3 linked regions of the Homo sapiens genome follow. The protein of the gene in region 1 interacts with the protein of each later gene in a pairwise test. Each region holds a gene or a part of one and is shown on either strand. Other genes may lie near its edges.

Region 1 (5,426 bases):
AGGAAACTTGCGGCAAGCGTCTGCGGTCTTCGCGTTTCATTGCAGACTTCGGGGATAAAATTGCTGCTGCGCCCACGCGCAACTGCACTGGATAGGGAACGGAGGGAGGAGATAGGACAGACGACCACCCCTCCACCCACGTGGAGAAGGCCTCAGACTTCGGGTTCTGAGAGCCAGCACCCTAAATCTGGGTGCGGGTGTACTGGTAGGACCACAGAGTTGGCCTAGTATAGGCGCCTAACTAGGAGTTATTCTGAAGTTTCGGAGAGTAAGAACTTCCTGTCCCCAGGGCCGGGGTGCGTGGGGGAGGGTGGCTACTAAAGGGCAGGCTAGTCTCGGCCTTCGCCGTGGTTCAGCTGCCGCCAAGGGGGTCTCGGCAAAGGAGTTGGAGGTGGCAGCGGGAGTGTAGTTGGGAGGATCATTGAAGGGGCTTTTGGGGATCGACCAATGGAGGGGAGGCCCATCTCAGAGACAGGGAGAGACAAACTTGGAGCCATGGGGAGTGACATACAAAATTTTATTCTTTATTTATTATTATTATTTATTTCTTATGTGCACAAAAGAAAAAGAATCAAAACGAACCGACGCACTGAAAGTGGCCGAGGAGACCAGAACCGTCCGGGGACATTTAGCAGGTTAGGCCTGGGCCTGGGTCCGGGGTCTCTGCCCGGCCAGCCCCACAGGACTGGGATGGGCCGGACCTCGGCGCCCTCGCCGCCCTCGCCGCCCCGTTCGGGCCACTGGAGCCTGGCTGGGCGCCGGGTTCCCTTAAACGATTCTCTTTTCTCTTTTTCCTTCTCAAATAAAAAGGGCTCGCAGGGGAGAGAGATCTGGGCGAGGACTCCAAGCCTTTTCGGATTTGTTCAAGGATTTTTATTTATTTTCACTTTATTGACTTTGTTTCTGTTATTTCGAGTCGTCACGATCCACGGGTGAGGAGACATGCAGGGCGCATCGCCACTACCGAAAGAGCAACTACGGGGCGGGACGGGGCGGCCCGGCCTTCGGCCGCCCGGGGCGCGCGGGGCACGCCCGCGAGGGGGCGAGCCCGGGGGCTGGAGCTGCCACCTCGGATCTAGCCTGCGGAGACAGGGCGGCCGGGCCAGGTCTGGGGAGAGAGGCCGAGGAAAGAGCAGAGACAGACAGACAAGAGCGACAGAGACGGAGAGAGACAGAGACAGAGGGGGAGAGAAGCGGAGAGGAGAGAGGGGCAGAGGGAGAGAGGGGCAGGGAGGAAAAAGCGAAAACACGGAATTACAGAGAAAGAGCCAACAAAACAGGCCAGAGGAGTCCACAGGACCATGTTCGTCATTTTGCATAGAGATTTCTTTTCTTTCGTAATTTTTTTTTGTAACATAAAAAATGCCCCCCTCCCCCAGGACGTGCTGTGCTTTAATGGGCGTGTAGCTGTGTCCCCCCCTTCCCCCCCAGCGAGCGGCGACTCTCACAGCACAGACAGCGGGGCGTATCTACAGGCAGGGCCGGCGGGCGACAGGGACTCTACGGGGCCGGGCGGGGCGGGGCGGAGGGGGAGGGGTTATGTACACCGGGTTTCGCCTTCACACGACACACACCGTCTTTCCACAAAGCAGCAGCCTGGTGGGCTTTTGTGTTGTTTTGTTCCTTTTTGCAAAGACCATCATATTAAATAAATGTAGACTTTTTGTGGTTCTGTTCAGTTCCTGCCGGAGGAGGAGGCTGGGAGGGGATGGGAGGAGTGGAGTGGGCAGCCCCCCACTTCCACCCCGCAGCAGCTCAGACGCCAGCTCAGAACCGGTTCTTACCACCGGCAGATTGAGAGTCTGTGTCGGGGGAGGGGGCATCAAGTAACTGCTGGAGGAAGACCCCAGTCCGCAGTCTATGGAAACTGGTCCTGCGGCGGTCCCGGGAGAGCGTCCGATGGGGCTGCGAGTCAGGGAGGAGGATGCAGGGCGTCAAGGGACAGGCGAAGGACTGGCAGGAGGGGAAACTGGGAGGCCAGCAGGTGGAAGAGACGCTGAGGTAGGGGCAAGGCAGGGCTGAGAGCCGGGTCTCGCAGCAGGAGGTGCCGGGCCCTGGGGAACTAGGCAGGCCAGGAGGAGCAGTGAAGAGCCGAGAGTCCGGCTCGATCGGTGCGGGCTGCTGGGCCCCCCGATCCTTGGGTCCCAACCTTGGAAAGACCTGACGCCCCCAAAGCCCGTTCCTAGAGCCGGACCCCCACACCCCCATTCCATCTTCTGGGACAGGGCACACCCGGAAGGCGAGGGCAGTCCGGCTGGCACTGGGGGAAAAGAATTTTTCCCAGGGATTCGGCAGCGGGCTCTTCCTCCTGCAGAAAGTCGTTTTCTTCTTAATCTCCTTGGCCCAGCCCCTCCAGCGAAGCCTCCTGGCGCCCGAGCGTCCGAGGCGGGTGCCCGGGGCTGGGCCGCGCTGCGGTCCGCGCTGATTGTGTGTCACAGAAACATCCGGCGCGCGCCAGCAGGTCGCGCCCGAGTCCGGCAGGGTGGCTGGCGGGCTTCGGGGCTGGCTTGGTGGAGGCCGGGACGAGCTGGGCCGAATCCCCCTCACGGCGCCGCGCAGTCCAGGCAGGCGGGGAGGGGCGGCAGGCGGGGCTGGGGGCGGCGGGCCCGGGCCTGAGGGTCCCGCCCACGGCTCCACCCGTCCTGTCCGACCTTCGAGGGGGGTGATGTGAAGGGTTGCGGGGGTCGTGGGATGGGGTGAGGCTGGGGCGGTGGCCGGGAGGCATCGCGTCGCGTCGGTCCTCCCTCCCTCCGGGGTGGGGTCAGACGGGGACGATGTGGAGGCCGAAGCTGTCGGCCTGAAGCTTGATGTGGTCCCCGCGGTAACTAGTGGCGGTCATAGGCAGCGGCAGCAGCGGCAGGGGCGGAGCCCCGGGGGGCGGCACTATAATAATAAGGGGAACCTGGAAGTTAACACAGGAGAAGAATGGGCTGGGTGAGAGGACAAACAGGAGAACAAAAAAGGAAAGAAAAGCACAGAAAAGACCTCCCCTGGCTGGGGTCCAGCGGGATCCGGACTGGGAGACCTTGGCTGGGCAGTGGAGCCAGTTGCCCCGGAGAATAGTTGCGTTCACGGGGCATGAGAGGGACCCGATCTGGTGACGCCCGGCTGCGCACCCTCCAGGGGATCCGAGGGCGAGGGCGGCGCAGAGCCTTCGAGCGACCAGGGAGGGCACGGGAGGGCAGGAGGTGCGGGCGTCCTCGAGGGGTCCCCGGGCCTCAGTGCTGCACTAACAAGCCTGTCCCCCTGGCCCGGCCGGGTCCCCAGAGGTCGGGTCGCCGGGAGTGGGACCGTGCCCAGAAGCCGCGCGGCCGCGCTGAGCCGCCGGCCAGCCAGGTGGCGTACTCACTTAGTAAGGCGGGGTTGCTGAATCTCCAAGCCTCGTTGTAGGCCGTGTACTGGGGGTGGCTGTACGGGTTGCCGGAGAACTCGCTCCCTGCGGGAGGGTCGGGGAGTGGGGATCAGACGCCTGCAAGCCAGGGCGGACCCCACGAGTCCGGCCGGTGGCTTCTCCGCCCGCTCCTCCCGCCGGGTCTCAGGCGCAGGTGTCGCGGGCAGGGTAATGGCCGTGGCGGGCGGGCCGGGCGGAGGTGGGGCGATCACCGCGTCCGCGTGGAGAGAGCCCGGGGAGGCGGGAGGCACCGACGCGCTCGCACACCCACGGGCGGGACCTGTGGGCCGGTGCCCGCCCAGGGCTTCCCAGCGGAGGCGCTCGCGGCCACCCACGAAGGGTTTGTATTGGGGCGCGTCCACCCTGTCGCGCTGGGGGCCAGGGCCTTTATAGATGCCACTCCGGTTCTAGGAGGCATGGCCCCTAATGGGTGGAAATGGGAGTGGGGGGCGGTGGCGAAGAAAGGCCTTCGGGACATTTTTCTCCCAGAAAGTCCTAAGAATGGCATCAATGTGCAGTGCCAACACAAGAGGTGGGAGCTCTTTTGGGAGACACCGCCCTCCCGCCTTTCCCTCAAGAGGTTGGATGCGTGGGCTACGCGGCAGGGGATGGAGGCGGCGCAGGTGGACTGCCCGCTGGTCCGCTAGCGGTGAGCGGAGGGCCCGTGGGTTGGGAGCCGTCGTCGGAAGCTACCTCCCTCCCTCTGCGGGAGAAAGGCCAGGCCTCCAGGTTTCCCCCTCGCCCTTTCTCCTGTGTGATGACCCCAGACTGTTTACAGTGATCCCTAACCGCGGGTTAAGTAGAGGAGAAGGGGCCCCTCTCTGAGAGGGAGCTGGGGTGGGGGTGGGGGATGCAGCCACTGGAAAGCCTGTTTATTGACGAGGAGGGAAAGCATGCGTGCAGCAGGATAATGAGCTTCTGAGCTCAACTGTGACCAAGAGGAACTGAGCTATCTCCTTCCCCATCGCTAATGAAACAAGTGTAATTTCCTCATCAGCACTAGATTCTGTTTAACGACTCCCCCCTCGACACCACGAGCTCTCTGCGGCTCCCCTCTTCCCCACCTCCCTGCAGACTCCCTGCCCCCACCTCCCCACTCTTCCCTCACCCCACCTCTTTAAAACCTCCTCCAGCCCCCACCTGCTCACTGCTGGGAGTTTCTCCCTAAAATCTCCTTGCCTCCCAACAAGGCTTCTACTTTCCTTCCCCTAAATCTGGGCAGGAATCCCTTTACCCACACCTCTAACTCCCTTCAGCCCCTAGTCCATAAGACCCAGCAGCAATCTCCCTCTTTGCCGCTGCCCCTACCCCAAGCTCTGCTTACCCAGGGTTATACCTAAATGTCCCTGGATGGATGGGGCCAACCACTCTCTTCTATCCTCCCCATTCCCCATACCAATGAGAGTTGAACTTCAGGGAAAGGCCACATAGAGGGCGGCCAGAGGGAGTGAGTTGCTGGCTGAGTGAGTCTAACCCTCCTTAAGACAAGAGTGTTTTGGTGTTTGTGCACATAGGAACTTCAACTCTCTTTGGCTTCAAGACCCTGCTCCCAATCTGGGGTTAGGGGTTAGGTATAGTACAACCTCCAGCTGCAGTCACCAGACCTTAAATACAGCCTCTGTCTCTCTGATTCAAACAACCCAAACCCAACTCCTCTGATTAGGGATGGGTCAGAGCCCCAGGGAAGCAATGGAAGGCTGGGTGCCTCTGAAGAGGTATAGGGGTGTTCTAGCCTGTCTCACTGCAGCGACTCTCCCTGCTTCCCGCCGCAGCCTGACCTCCATTCCTCTTAGGGACTAGCTCCCTACTGTCTCTGGGTTGGGGTTGGGGTTGGTTCTCAACATTGGTCTTCCCTTGTGTCTTGGTGTGGACCAGGGTGGCTTTGTCTGAGTGACTGACATGCCCCTGGAAATGGTTCTTGGCTCCAAGTTTCCATGGAAACCAGGGCAGGCTCTTCCAAGCAGTGTCAGCTGGCTGGGGTGGGCTGGGCACTGAGGGTGGAGCTGAGGCTGAGTGCTCCTCGGGCACAGACTTG
Region 2 (7,000 bases), on another chromosome or scaffold:
GGCAGGGTGGGGGTGGTGGTGTGGTAAACGCTAATAAATAATTTAACAATGACAAGTTATTAAATAAAATGTGTCTGGGGATGGCGGGTGGGTAGTGAGAATCTGTCTGTACAAGGAAAACAGGAATGGCCGGTGGCCCATCCCCACACCTGGCTGGGCTGGGCTCCCATGGGACCCCCAGGTGGGGTCGGGGGAACCAGCAAAGAGGCTCATTGGCAATGGTGCCTTCCAAGGGCCAAATGTTGGAGGGGTCTTTCCTGCTCCCCCAGTCCCCAGGCCACATGTGCCTGTGAGTATGGGTCCGCAAGCCTCCGTGTGCGTCCAGGTGTGAGTGTGTGTGTGCGAGCGCGTGCGTGTGAGCGTGGAGCCCTTTCCCCCCAGGGCAGACTTAGCCCCAGAGCTGCAGGCTCTCCCTCACCCTAGGTGGTGCCCAGAGCTCAAGGATGGAGCCAGGCAGGCATCAGGCAATCCTCCTTCCTGAGGTTCCCTGCGTGCAACATGAAAAGGACATTCAGATGGGGGCAGAGTGGGGAATCAGCCTCTTGCTAGGAGGCTGCAGGGCTTCCCAAAGGAGAAGAGGCTTGTCCCTGCCAGGCCCTGCTCATCTGATGCAGCGCCAGGGCCTTCCCACCTTTACCCACCCTCAGGAAGCCTCCTAAGATGCCCAGCCACGTGCACCAACCCCCTTTCTGAGCTCTTTCCAGGCTGTGCTGGCACCTTGGTCTGACTCTTGTGAGCAGTGTCTCTGTGTGGCCTCCCTGTGCGTTTCCCAGGATAGCAGAGTACCTGGGAGGCTTCACGGAGTAGGCAGATGAGGCTCTGGCTGGGGCCATGCCCAGCTTTTTGTCCCTCCTCTGCCCTGTGTTACCTGGGGCAATTATTTCCTCTTTCTGAGCCTTGACTTCCCCAGCAGGGAAGTGGAACTTGGTCTTTTGCCAAGACTCCCCCTGCCCACCTCTCATTCTCTTTTGCTCTGGAGACCACACAGTTATCTCCCTCTTCCCACTCCAGCCCCCTTAGTGATGAAGGTTCCATGTCACGGCACGGGCAAGGGGTGGTCCTGGCTACTCCCCGCCCAGCTCCCAGCCAAGGCTGCAGCTCCTCCCATAAAGTGGGAGAAGGTTGCCCAGCCCCACAGGCTTCTGCTGGGTGGCCCTGAACACATCGCCTCCCTTCTCTGAGCCTCAGGCTCCTCATCTGAGAAACGGGTCCCTGCCATGTCTGGACTCTCTGGCTGGGCCGGAGAGTCTGGCTTTCCTTCTAGGAGACACCCCTCAAGGCAGGCCCTGCATCTTGTTCATCTGCGAGCCACACCCAGTCCGGGGCTGGGCAGAGTGGGCACTGGTGTCTGGGAGCCTGTGGGCAGCAAGGCACAGCATAGAGCAAGGGGCCCCTAGCCACGGCTGACAGGGCGCCTCCAGCATAAGGGACTCTCTGAGGTCCCTTCTGGCTTTAACAGTCTGTGGGTCACAAGCATGCTGTCCCTAGACCAGCTCCTGGCATGGGGTCCCGGCTGGATTCGGGGGTTTGTGAGGCCCCAGAATGGGAATATGTGACCCCAACAGCTGGCAAGTTTACTAAGAACAAGTTGTGACCCCCTGACCTGGAGGTCATTCACAAACCACAGGGGACAGTGGGGCACAACGTCCCTGTTCTCAGCTCAGCTCTGTCACTAACCCGGACCTTGGACAGGCCTCTTTCCCTCTCTTGCCTCAGGGTTTCCAACTATAAAATAAGGGGCAGATGAGATGACCGCTTCTGACGTCCCTTCCAACTTATTGGGTCTGAGAGAGAAGGGCCAGGTCTCCTGGGGGATAGGGCATCTGCCCCTGAATCTGCCCAGGATGTCCCTGGCACGATTCAGATGGTGCATGTGCAAAAGGAGAAAGAGGGGTGTCTCTCCAGAAGCCAGTGCAGCTGCTGCTCAAGAGACCCATGGTGGCACGGACCCTGGTGGGCTGAGGCGGCAGAAGGACCAGAACATCAACTGAGGTCCTTGGAGAGGCTCTGTTTGTAAGAAGAGCTGCAGAAGGGCTAGCTGGCTGCTGGGGCCCAATGGGTGACACGAGGCCACATGTCAGGCAAGGAGGTTGGCCCAGGACATTCTGGGGGGACTGAATTTCCCAGCAAACGGGAGCAAAACCACAGAACAGGTTGAACTTAGAGGATTCCAGAGATCCAGGCAGAGGGCCCCAAAGGTGGAAAAGGGACATTCATTATCCTTACTTGCTCAAAGGTTGGACCAGGCAGACTTTAGGGTGGTGGCCTAGGGCTTGACCTCAGAGTTAAAGGTAGGGTTGTGAGCACCTGAACAAGGGGACACAGTGATCACCAGGGGACAGGGTGGGCTCACCAGTCAGGCCCCAGCAGCCCAGCCTCCTTGCTCTGACAGGGATAGAGTTGAGCAGACTGGGGCTGGGGATGGATCTAGTGCACCTGACTTCCAGCAGGGCGCCTGACACAATCTTCTGCAATTGCCCTGGGAGAAGGGGGCAGGAAATGCAATTGGAATGTGTCCCCCAAAGAGGATGCATTAATGGGCCAATGTCAAACAGGGAGAGGCCAGCCCGGTCCACACACCTCAGGTGAGACCCAGGGCCAACTCCTCACTGGGCAGATGTGCTGGGAGAGAGGAGAGCAGTGGTCACTGAATCAGGGTGCAGAGAAATTCCACAGGCTGGAATGAATCGAGTAAGAAGGAATGGAAAAGGAAAGAGGTCACGGTCCCTCATTCAGTCTAAACAGTAAGTGCAGACTGGGTGCGGTGGCTCACGCCTGTAATCCCAGCACTTTGGGAGGCCGAGGCAGGCGGATCACCTGAGGTCGGGGGTTGGAGACCAGCCTGACCAACATGGAGAAACCCCGTTGCTACTAAAAATACAAAATTAGCTGGGTGTGGTGGCGCATGCCTGTAATCTCAGCTACTAGGGAGGCTGAGGCATCAGAATCACTTGAACCTGGGAGGCGGAGGTTGTGGTGAGCCGAGATCGCGCCATTGCACTCCAGCCTGGGCAACAAGAGCGAAACTCCGTCTCAAACAAAACAAAACAAAACAAAACAAAACAAAACAAAACAAAACAAAACAAAACAGTAGGTGCCCCCATCCTGCATATACACAGAAAACAGATGTGGCTTAGCTGTCACTTGCGTGTGGGGCCCAGGGATTTAGCTACAGCAGGGCAGGGTGAATCTCTAAGGTCATGTGGCCAAATCATTGTCTTTTGGGCCAAATTAACAGAGGAAGGGTGCCACAGCAGGAGAGGTGATGTGCCTGCTCACTTCTGGCCGGCTGACATCAGTGGGAAGGTGAAGTGATACCTGCCCCACACCTTTAGAGGGACAGCCGGAGGCCTGCTGGGGGACAGTGTTAAGAGGGAGAGCTGGGGAAGCCTGGCTCTGGGATGCAGGACAGCACAGCTGCTGTGGGCTCGCTGACCTAGTGAGCTCCTTGTCACTGGAGGTATGTGAGGGGAGGCAGAGGTGGCTGGGGAGAGGACCACATTGCAGATGGGGTGCCCAGCAGGTGCTTCTGAAGTCCCTGACCCCTGGAGGCTCTGTTGTCTGGTCTGATGCTACCTGGTTCTGGGGGCTCCATCTGCCTCTAGAGTTGGTGGGGCCTGGGGCTGCCCTCCCTGCCCAGGCTGCCCCCATTTGGGCCCAGGCTGGGATACAACTGGGTCCGATGCTTCAAGTTCGCCTCTTCCTCTCCCCTTCCTCCCTTTCCAATCGCTCTTAAGAACTGGGGGGTCCCCTGCCTGGCCTCCTTTTCTCTTTCTGACAAGGCAGGACAGACCCGCTGAGCATCCCTGTCCCTTCTGGTGTCCCCATACAGCTGTGTGTGTGTTTGCGTGGGTTTGTCTGCAAGTGTGCATGTGTCTGCACGTGCCTCTCTGTCCCTTTGCGCCTGCCCAGGCTCAGGCTCCGAGCCCGCCTCCTGACAGTGCCTCCCCTCAGGCCCCTCTCCACTGCTGCTCCAGACTCAGGCTGAGGGGTGTGCGGTTCCAGGCAGTGGGCCTGCCCCCAGAGGCCACCCCTGCCCTTGCTGGGGCACAGGTACACACGCTTCTCAGGTCACCGCCTCATGACACCATTGTCCTGGGGCTTGCATGGAGGGCCATGGACACAGAGAGGACATTTAAAAAAATAGAGAGAATTTAAGCTTCCCAAAAAAGAGATGGGGAGGAGGCGATGGAGGCCGAGGTGGGGCTGGGAGGCGAGTGGCCGTCCGAGAGCTCTGGGTCCCTGGGGATGACAAGGTCTCTGTGGGCAGGACACAGCCCCTGCCCAGGCTGTGCCCATCTACCGGTCTGGCTGTACCCAACGGGCACAGTGGTCAGGCCCAGCTGGCCGAGGGGAGGGCACCGTATGGCTGTCTGTAGTCTGTGCGGAGAGCAGGGCGGGGGTGGCCAGGCTGGCCGCAGAGGCTGGCAGTCCCCCCCAGGCCCCTGCCCAAGCGTCCGTGCGCCTGGCTGGCTCTCAGGAGGCGAAGTAGGAACTCTGCATGGAGTAGAGCCGGTCGATGGGGTTCCCCACGCGGGCCTGCAGGGAGCCCACGTCTGAGGAGCCGAGGAAGCAGTCGCTGAGGCTGGTTAAGGAGGTATCGCTGTCGATGTCATGGAAGATGGAGTCGTTCCCTGGGGGGCAGAAGGGGTGTCAGGACCGGGGTACAGGCTGGGGCTCCTGGGGGCCCCCTGTTTGCCCTGTAGGCTGTGTGACTGGAGGCCAGGGAGAGACAGGATGGCCTGCTGACTAGTGCCGGCCAAGAAGGACTGGGGCCCTTCCTGTCAGCAGGGGCAGGAGGGCTGTGCTGGCCATGCTGCCTGAGCCCTAGGGCAGCAGGTGGCTGTCCTGGCCCCAGGCCTGCCTGGCCTGGCAGGGGGCAGGGGCTGTGCTGGGGCGGGCGGGTGGGGGTAGGGCGGCTTACCATAGGGGTTCATGTGGTCACCTGGCATTTGGGGCGGCGTGAGGCCCTGCTGGAAGGGGTCGCTGCTGCCGTAGGGGCTCTGTTCCATGGCCACGATCTGCTGCTGTGGTGGGGCCAGCGGCGTGTAGGAAGCCATCATGCCCTCCATGCGGCTGGACAGGACCTCTGGGGGCACAGTGAGCCTTCACCCCCTGGCCTGGTCCACGCCCTCCCAGCTACACCCCAGCAGCCTCCCCTTCTGATCTCCTTGGGACTCCCCAGGCACCCCACTCTGGCTGAAGCTGTCCAGACACTGACTCCCCAGCCCCTTCCCCAGGTGCACACTCCAGCTCCTCCTCCAGGCTCAGCTTACCAAAAGCCAGAGTCCTCCCCTCCTCATCTTCTTTCCTCCCACCACCCCGCCCCTCCAGGGGATCCAGGGAGGCGGCAGACCCCACACAGGCAATAGTGATTCTGCGCTGCATCTGGGAGCACCAAGGTCCCAGACCCAGGCCAAAAAGGCCCCGGGAAGACTTCCTGGAGGAAAGGGCCCCCGCCCTGATGTGACTTAAAGAACTAGCAGGGGCTCAACAGGCCAGAGCAGGGGAGGCAAGCCAGGCTGAGGGGCGGCAAAGGCATGGAGGAGACAGACCGCCGGGTAAGTGAGGGTGCAGCACGTGGGGCCAAGAGGCAGGGAGAGAGGTCGGTGTGGGGGAGACCAGCTGAGAGGGACCACAGGTCATGGGGAGCCCTGGGGTGCCGAGCTGGGTGGGGGTCCCCGAGGCCGCTGGGAGCCGCTGGAGGGTTTGGTAGACGAGGGTGAGAAAGGCTGGAGGAGGAGACCGAGGCTGGGGCCAGTGGGTGAGGAAGCCAGAGGAAGGGTGGGGTCTCTGTCAAGGTGGCTGTGGGAGAGACAGCTCCTAGGAGGGTGCGAGAGACATGAGAAGACTTCACTCCCCAACTTGGCACCTCAGTGGATCAGCAGTGTGGGATGGGGAAGGTCAGAGGTGACTCCTGGTTCCTGGCTCGGACAGGGCGGATGGTGGTGCCATTTGCAGAGAAGGGTGGGGAGGAGCAGGGCATGCCATGTGCGTGTGGGCAGGATGGAGCATACGGCATGGGTTGGGATGAGCTGGGGGGACTGTGGGACCTTCTCAGGGAGGCTGTGTCCAGGAAGCAGCTAGGAACACTGAGGGGTGAGACATAGCCCAGGACATGGCTGGGAGACCAGAGGCAGTGACTGCAGCCCCAGGAGGGGCAGAGGGGGAAGCGAGGAAGCAGCAGGCACTAAGGCTGTGTCATTAGAAGCCAAGTCCAGCCTGGGACACTGGCCTGGCCCCCAGTGCCCTGGTATCTGCCCATTGGTGCCCTGGCACCTGCCCAGAAGCCTCCCTCTCACCAGGGCGCAGGCAGCTCTGTCCCCCGCCTGCTTCAGCAGTCCCAGGGAGCTCCCTGCTCCTCCCTCATGGCTTTGAAGGCCCAGGAGACCAGCCCTGGCTCAAGATTCTGATGTGGAAACACGATTTTTGGTAAAGCCCAGTGATGAGGGGGCCTGACTCATGCCCCTGCAGCTAGTCCCTCCCGACTCCCCAGGCCCTTCACGCCCTGACAAGCTTTGTCTGCAGAATTCCGGCAGTGGGGTAGTGTCATCCTGTTAAAGGTACAGGCTTGAGCTCCAGGCTTGGGGCTGAGGTCCAGCTTTGCCTTACTGGCTGAGGGATCCCAGGCAGTCCCTCAGTTTCCTCATCTGTGAAATGGGACATGGCAATACCCCCCCTTGCAGTGATTTATGAGGACAGGGTGAGATGGGGTGTGCTGAAGGCTGAGACCCGTGTCTGCACGCAGTGAGTGTGAGTAGACTGTTGCTGTTCTGATTGCAGAAATTCTGCCAACCCTCCAGGCAGCCACTCTGCCATCTCTCCTCCCTGGGTCCCCTAGTCCCCATGGCTTCTCTATTTCTCTGTCTCAGTGGTTTTAAAGCAGAAGTTCCCTGGGATCTGATGGCCTTGGTGGAAGGCTTTTGAGAAGTTTTGTTAAAAGAAACATCCCGGGCCCCTTTGTCCCTAGCCCTGGGACAGGTGCAGCCCCGGTCCCAGC
Region 3 (7,563 bases), on another chromosome or scaffold:
GAATAGCATAAATAAAGTGGCCATGAGTTGATCATTGCTGAAGCTGTGTGATTAATACATGGGGATTAATTACTTTTATAAATGTTTGAAACTTTCTATAATAGAAAATTTGAAAAAAATTTTTCAGTTAGAGGAAACTTTAAGACCAATAATTTTAGGCCGGGCATGGTGGCTCACCCCTGTAATCCCAGCACTTTGGGAGGCTGAGGCATGTGGATTGCTTCAGCTCAGGAGTTTGAGACCAACCTGGGCAACATGGCAAAATCCAGTTTCTATTTAAAAAATAAAATCAATAATTTTAGAGAAGGTGATTAAGAAGTAATAGCAGAGATTGTGGTGTGGGCTAAATTACATCCTAACTGGTCATTCAAAATTCATTACTCCAAACAATTCATTTCAGGGAGAAATTAAATGCAAACAAATAATATCATATGTTGTAAGACATACCAGCAGGAAAAAGGAAATTCAAACATTCAAGTAAAGGTAATTTCTAATATTTTTACCTTGAGTTCCAGCCTTGTAGTATCTGCCTGGCACCGATAAGTGGCAAGAAGGAAGTTGTCGTTTGACTGGGAAGAATACAAAGTGGAGGAAAAGAATGAATCCATGTTTTTAGCAACAAAAAAAAGACATCAATAATAATAATGGTTACCATTTGCTTAAGCACCTGTCATTGGTGCTCAGCGCTTTTCAAACATGTTCTAACTTACACTTACAAAAACTCTATGCACTAAGTTTTACTAATTAAATTTTAACAGATGAAGAAACTGAGGTTATGAGGAGTTAAATAAAAGCCATTAAGTGATGAAACTGGAATTCAAATTCCTATCGAAAGCTCATGCTCTTTCCATCTTGAGTTTTTACAATAACATTTTTAAACATTAAGAATTCTTCTAAAAATCTGACAATGCAAACACCAAATGTGATATGGTTTGGCTCTGTCCCCATTCAAATCTCATCTTGAATTGTACTGCCATAATTCCCATGTGTTGTGGGAGGGACTCAGTGGGAGATAATTGAATCATGGGGCCATTTTCTCCCATACTGCTCTCATGGTAGTGAATAAGATCTGATGGTTTTATAAGGGGAAACCCCTTTCTCTTGGCTCTCATTTTCTCTTGTCTGCCGCCATGTGAGATGTGCCTTTCACCTTCCGCCATGATTGTGAGGCCTCCCCAGCCAGGTGGAACTGTGAGTCCAATAAACCTCTTTCTTTTGTAAATTGTCCCATCTTGGATATGTCTTTATCAGCAGTGTGAAAATGGACTAATACAAAATGTTTATACTGTAAAGGCACATACACCAGAGTTTAATATTGAATCTCTTAGATTTTTCACAAATACTTATACAGGAAAGAGAAATATCTCTTCTCTGTATTCCCAGCAAATGGCACAGTGCCTGGCATACTGTAAGTGCTTAATACATGTTTGTTGAACTAACCTAGAGGAGTTTTTTCAAATATTATAACTTCTTGAAATTGAATATTAAACTACTAGAAATAGAGAAATGTAGCTAGGTTCATGGATTACAAAAAGAGACACAGCAACATAAGATAATTTATATGTAATTTTTGAGACTGCTATTTCTCTATTTTTATTAAATAATCAAAGAAATAAAAAGGATGGTAATATAAAATATAAAACTCAAACATTTCAATTTCAAATCATTTAAACTCAACAGAGAGGACTGATCAATTTAAAAGTAAATATATTCTTTTTTTTTTTTTTTGAGACAGAGTCTTGCTGTGTTGCCCAGGCTAGAGTGCAGTGGTGTGATCTCAGCTCAATGTAACCTCTGCCTCCTGGGCTCAACTGACTCTCATACCTCAGCCTCCCAAATAGCTGGGACTACAGGTGCATGCCACCACACCCAGCTACTTGTTATGTATTTTTAGTAAAGAGGGTGTTTTACCATGTTGGCCAGGCTGGTCTTGAATTCCTGGCCTCAAGTGATCCACCTGCCTTGGGCTCCCAAAGTGCTGGGATTACACGTATGAGCCACGGTGCCAAGCCGTAAATGTGTTCTTGTATGATTAAAAGCAAACGTTATATACTACAGTGTTTATCAATAAATGATACAGATAACATGTTTGGGATGAGGTTTGGGAGTGGGAAGGAGAGGGTGAAGAGCATGAAAAAATGACTGGGCTGGGCATGGTGGCTCACACCTGTAATCCCAGCACTTTGGGAGGCTGGAAGGTGGAAGGACAGCTTGAAGCTAGGAGTTCAAGACCAGCCTGGGCAACAAAGTGAGGCCCCATTTCTACAAAAAATAAAAAATAAAAAAAATTAGCTGGGCATCATGGCATATGCCTATGGTCCTACGTACTCAGGAGACTGAGACAAGAAGATAAGCTTAAGCCCAGAAGTTTCAGGCTGCAATAAGCTATGATCACGCCACTGCACTCCAGCCTGGGTGACACAGTAAGACCCCCATCTTTTAAAAAAAAAAAAGACTAACCATATGTTGAAAATTAGTGATGGGTACATGCAAGTTATTATACTAGTCTTTCTACTTTTGTGTATACTTGAAACCTCCATACGTTTTTTTAAAGCCATTGTCCTAGAAAATATATTTTAAATTAGTATCAAATAGTCATTTCAAAGAATCCTTCAGTGATGTAATTAAAACAGATTAATCTTTCATAGTAACTTAAGAATCAAAGATTTTAAGTTTGTTTTAAGTTTACTGATTTTCTAAATAATCATAAAAATGTAGGCCATATCTTTTGTGTTTTGTTCTCAAACAGGAACGACAAACCACATATTGATAATATAATACAACTGTTATAAAATCGCTTATTAAAAATAAAATTTTTACTATGAAGTTATATTGAAAAACAGGCTGGGCACAGTGGCTCACACCTGTAATCCCAGCACTTTGGGAGGCCAAGGCCAGTGGATCACCTGAGGTCAGGAGTTCAAGACTAGCCTGACCAACATGGCAAAAACCCATCTCTACTAAAAATACAAAAATTAGCCGGGTGTGGTGGCGTGTGCGTGTAGTCCCAGCTACTTGGGAGTCTTGAGACAGGAGAATTGCTTGAACCTGGGAGGCGGAGGTTGCAGTGAGCTGAGATTGTGCCACTGCACTCCAGCCTGGGTGAGGAGTGAGACTCCATCTCAAAAAAAAAAAAAAAAAAAGAAAAAGAAAATTATTCTTTTATCTATCAATATTTTACTTTATCTACTCTTTTATTCCTCCTTTTTAAAAATATATATATAAGGCCAGACGTGGTGGCTCATGCTTATAATCCCAGCACTTTGGGAGGCTGAGGTGGGAGGATCACTTAGGCCCAGGAGTTTGAGACCAGCCTGGGCAACATAGGAAGACCCTGTCTCTACAAAAAATTTAAAAATCAGCCAGGCATGGTGGCTTGTGCCTGTAGTCCCAGCTACTTGGAAGGCTGAGGTGGGAGGATCTGCTTGAGCCAAGGAGGTCGAGGCTGCAGCGAGCCATGATCACGCCACTGCACTCCAGCCTGGGCAACAGAGCGAGACCATGTCTTAAAAAAGTAAATAAATAACAAAAACCAAATAAATAAAATATATTCTGCAACAGTGCCAATGCATATAAATAAAATAAAATATATATTAATATAACTAACCACCAACTCCAGTTACCATCTCCTCCTGCTCTGGCTTGCCTTCTACAATGCAATTAATCCAAACCTTATCTATACCTTGACTTCTCTTCAGGAGTCACACCTAGCTCTGAGACTGCTTATCGGCTAGTACTAAGCAGAAAGAAGTGATACAGTAAGCATGTCCAAAAGCACTGACGTGATCATCTCAGGTACTGTGCACGTTAAGTGCTCAATAAAAGTCTGTTGAATGAAGTTTAGTATGCATTCAACAAGCCTAGAAAAAGTGGGGCAGGGCAGGAAGAGCGGGGGAAGCAACAGATCATGTTCCAATGCAGGGATGTGTGAAACTATATAGCATTTTCAGGAATTTTAAGAACTTCAGTTTGGCAGAAATAATGTGCATGGGAGGGGTGGTAGCAGCCGGTGAGAGAGAAGTTAGAGATGTAATCAAGAGCTGAATCATGGAAAGTTTTCTATGCCACAATAAGGAATCTATATTTATATCTAGCAGGAAATCAGGAATATTGAAAAGGTTTTGAGAAAAGAAAGATACAGTGATGTTCGTGTTTTAGGAAGGAAGACGTCTCTGGTGGTAGTGTACATACAGCATATCCTAGAAGTCAGAGGCAAGACTAGAGGCAGAGAAACTTATAAAGTAGTTCAAGCAAGACATGATAAGGGCCTGGACTAAGTTAACAGGGGTAGGAATGAAGCCAAGTGGAAGTATGAAAGCCATGGAGGTAGAACTGACAGAAACTAGTGACTAATTGGATATATAGGCTGAACATTCCCAAACTGAGTATCTAAAATGTTCCAAAACTCTAAACTTTTTGAGTGCCAAGATAATACTTTAAGGAAACGCTCATTGGAGCATTTCAGATTTCAGATTTTCAAATTTGGGGTGCTGAACCAGTAAATACAAAACAAATATTCCAAAACCTGAAAAAAATCCAAAATCCAAAATACTTCTTGGTCCCAAGCATTTCACATAAGGGATATCAACCTGTAACAGATCACAGAAAAGAAGGAATCTAGGACATCAGGTTTCTCGACTGAGGACAGGGAAAGAGAACCGACACAGATTTTGAAGGAAAGGTTACATAAGAAATAATTGAAAAAGAAACATCAAAACCTAGCAGCATCTATAGACTTTAATCAAAATGGCATAATAGAAATGAAAGCATGTGAAGAATTCTTTTATATTTTTACTCACCTCAGAATCACAGCTGCTAAAGCTAACAACAGCAGAATTTTTATCCACATCAAGTAAATCTATTGGAACATCACTCTATAGTCAATATTAAAAAAAAAGAAGGTTGAGATGGAAAACCTAAAAATGTTCATAAATTATGTTTTCTCTAAGAGTTCTCCTTAGTTCTAGTTTATATTCATCTTTAAATTTGAGAGTATGAATTCTCTTAACTTATACTTGATAGTATATACTTCCAGAAAATAAATATAATAAAGAATAAATGTTATTTTACAATCACCTGCTTTTTTCTAACTTGGATTATAAAAATCACAGAATAACATCTCTCACCACCCCCTTAAAAGTCCAATCATCCCACTTATTTTTATAAAGTGCTAAAAATGTTACCATGAGCTATAAATAATCACATGGCCATTCTGATTGTATCAGTTCATTTTTATCAGTTTTAATTTTACCTGTAACACAGAAAGAAGATAATTTTTGGTCTCCTCTGGAGAGGCAGTTTGTAGGACAAAGCTGTTGCACTGTCCTATGTGAATGGCATTCCTAGAGTTGTTCAATGCAACAGCCCGTGAGCTAGCATTACTTAAGAGAGTTTTCTGCCTTTAGGTTTTTTTTTTAATAATCTGATCTCTCCATTACATCTTTTTAAACCTTTTCTTCCTCCAATTTGTTATGTTCTCATTTTGTGATTGGTTTACTACCTTTTGTTTGTTTTCTATTCATCCTATTATTCTTTTCTACTTCCTGAATACCTTCTAATTTAAATAAGTCAGTAAATATATACATTGATGAATGGAGTCATATATTATTATCCCTAAATTTCACCCTTTAGTATTCTCTACTTTGCCTGTTGACCTACCAGAAACTGTTGGGTTAATGAGCAAGCTGTACTTTAATGTTTGGGGCTTTAAAAAAAAATGTTCTAGCAAGGGCATTAAATATGGTAGTTTTCTAAGTCACATCTCTGTTAAGATTCTCCCAGAGGGTAGCCAAAGAAGAAAAACCTTACTGTCTTTTCTAACTCTTCTTAAAACTGAAGCCCATCTTTTGTTTGTTAAGTACATAAATAAAAAGTAAAAATATAATTCAAATAATCTGTGAGCAAACCAATTATCTAAAGGAAGAATAAAAGGCCATAAACATTTAAAATTACTGTCTATGACTGGGTGGGGTGGTTCACGCTTGCAATCCCAGCACTTTGTGAGGCCGAGGCGGGTGGATCACCAGAGGTCAGGAGTTCAAGACCAGCCTGGCCAACATGGTGAAACCCCGTCTCTACTAAAAATACAAAATTAGCCAGGTGTGGTGGCACATACCTGTAGTCCCAGCTACTCGGGAGGCTGAGGCAGGAGAATCACTTGAACCTGGGAGTCGGAGGTTACAGTGAGCTGAGATCGCACCACTGCACTCCAGTCTAGGTGACAGAGTAAAACTCTGTCTCAAAAAAATAAAAATAAAAATAAAAATAAAATAAAATTACTGTCTAAAACTAAAAATGTTCAATAATAATTAGTACATATGACTGGTTTGCAAAATAGATCCAGTCATAAAACTAAGAAATTAGACATTTTGCTTACCTGTATTAAGACATTATCTATTGCAGTCTGTACCTCTAAGATAAGGCTGTAACTGGCATCATCTTTATTTAGTGTAAATTTATCATTTATACCAAAGGAAGGTACTGCTGATTTTGCTTTGCTTGATTGAGAAGACTGTTGATAATTCTCTCTTTCCTGCAATACCTTATACTGCAAATGTTCCAACTCATTCCTGGAGAAAAACACATACAAATTTGTCAAATATAAGTATAAACATTTGAGGTCGTTAGGATGTTTACAAAAATTTGAGACATTTGCTTTTACAAAATGGGTTTTTATTGGTTGAGTTAATAAAATAAAAACAAAGGGAGCAAAATTTTTGCTTCTATGACTGACTAAATGATTCCACATTATTTATCCTTAACCCCAAAATTAAAATATCTACTCATTCCCATACTAGCAATATTAATAGAGAGTTTTAAATATCATGGTAGGCTACAAAATAATCTTAACACAGGAATCTTGTTACAGTTACATAAAGTACTAATCAGAAGAGAAACTTCTTATACTAATGAGAAGAGAAACTAATATTGCAGAACATATTAGTCTTAATGAAAAGAGACAAAATGTGTGAAGCCAGTAAACACGTAACTTTCAGTAAGACATTAGGGGAGACATAAAAAATAAAAAGGAAGCTGCAGAGCATTAGCATTTTGGGGACCACAAGGATGATCATGAGCCAGTGGTATGGCTTAACTACCAAGAGTTAGAGAGGATTCTGCTGAGACTGAACTACAGCATTGCTTAGAGCTCCAGTTAAGGGGAAGGGCCACATGCAAATGGAGTAAACAGTCATTGGGATAGAACAACATGAGGCTTAACTAGCCACAGTTTAGGAGGAAAAGTCTAGGGAGGAGCTTAGAAGGGATCTGTGTAATGAACAAAGGAAAAGATTCATTCATCAAAGAAATATTTACTGCTAAATATTACATATTTACTCCTATGTACCTAGCAGTGTTTGGGTATCAAATGAACAAATCAGATATAAGTTTCTCATAAAGCTTACATTCCAGTGGAATCAAGAAATGGTAGACTTGGTTATAAAAAAAAGGTAATGTATTGAGGATGTGAGAGAGTAGTCATTAACTATACTTGTATCCTTGTTGCATGAAGTAGGATATCCTGAATGAATCTGGTATACTTGTTTGCATGAACATTACAGTTTG

What was found.
Region 2: the proteins of PAX2 (region 1) and LMX1B interact in binary tests that used the Homo sapiens proteins (3 or more experiments, as listed by UniProt).
Region 3: the proteins of PAX2 (region 1) and BBS7 interact in a two-hybrid assay, tested with the Homo sapiens proteins (one study listed by BioGRID and IntAct).

The regions. Positions count from the first base shown.
Region 1 is NC_000010.11:100,825,019-100,830,444, reverse strand, and holds the end of PAX2 (paired box protein Pax-2), read right to left. Parts: intron 3,437-5,426; coding exon 3,350-3,436; intron 2,903-3,349; coding exon 2,826-2,902; coding exon of another isoform or gene 2,762-2,825; 3' UTR 501-2,761; downstream 1-500. UniProt on the Homo sapiens protein: Transcription factor that may have a role in kidney cell differentiation. Has a critical role in the development of the urogenital tract, the eyes, and the CNS.
Region 2 is NC_000009.12:126,693,928-126,700,927, reverse strand, and holds part of LMX1B (LIM homeobox transcription factor 1-beta), read right to left. Parts: intron 5,090-7,000; coding exon 4,925-5,089; intron 4,635-4,924; coding exon 4,477-4,634; 3' UTR 1-4,476. UniProt on the Homo sapiens protein: Transcription factor involved in the regulation of podocyte-expressed genes. Essential for the specification of dorsal limb fate at both the zeugopodal and autopodal levels.
Region 3 is NC_000004.12:121,839,128-121,846,690, forward strand, and holds part of BBS7 (BBSome complex member BBS7), read right to left. Parts: intron 6,570-7,563; coding exon 6,377-6,569; intron 4,875-6,376; coding exon 4,800-4,874; intron 570-4,799; coding exon 504-569; intron 1-503.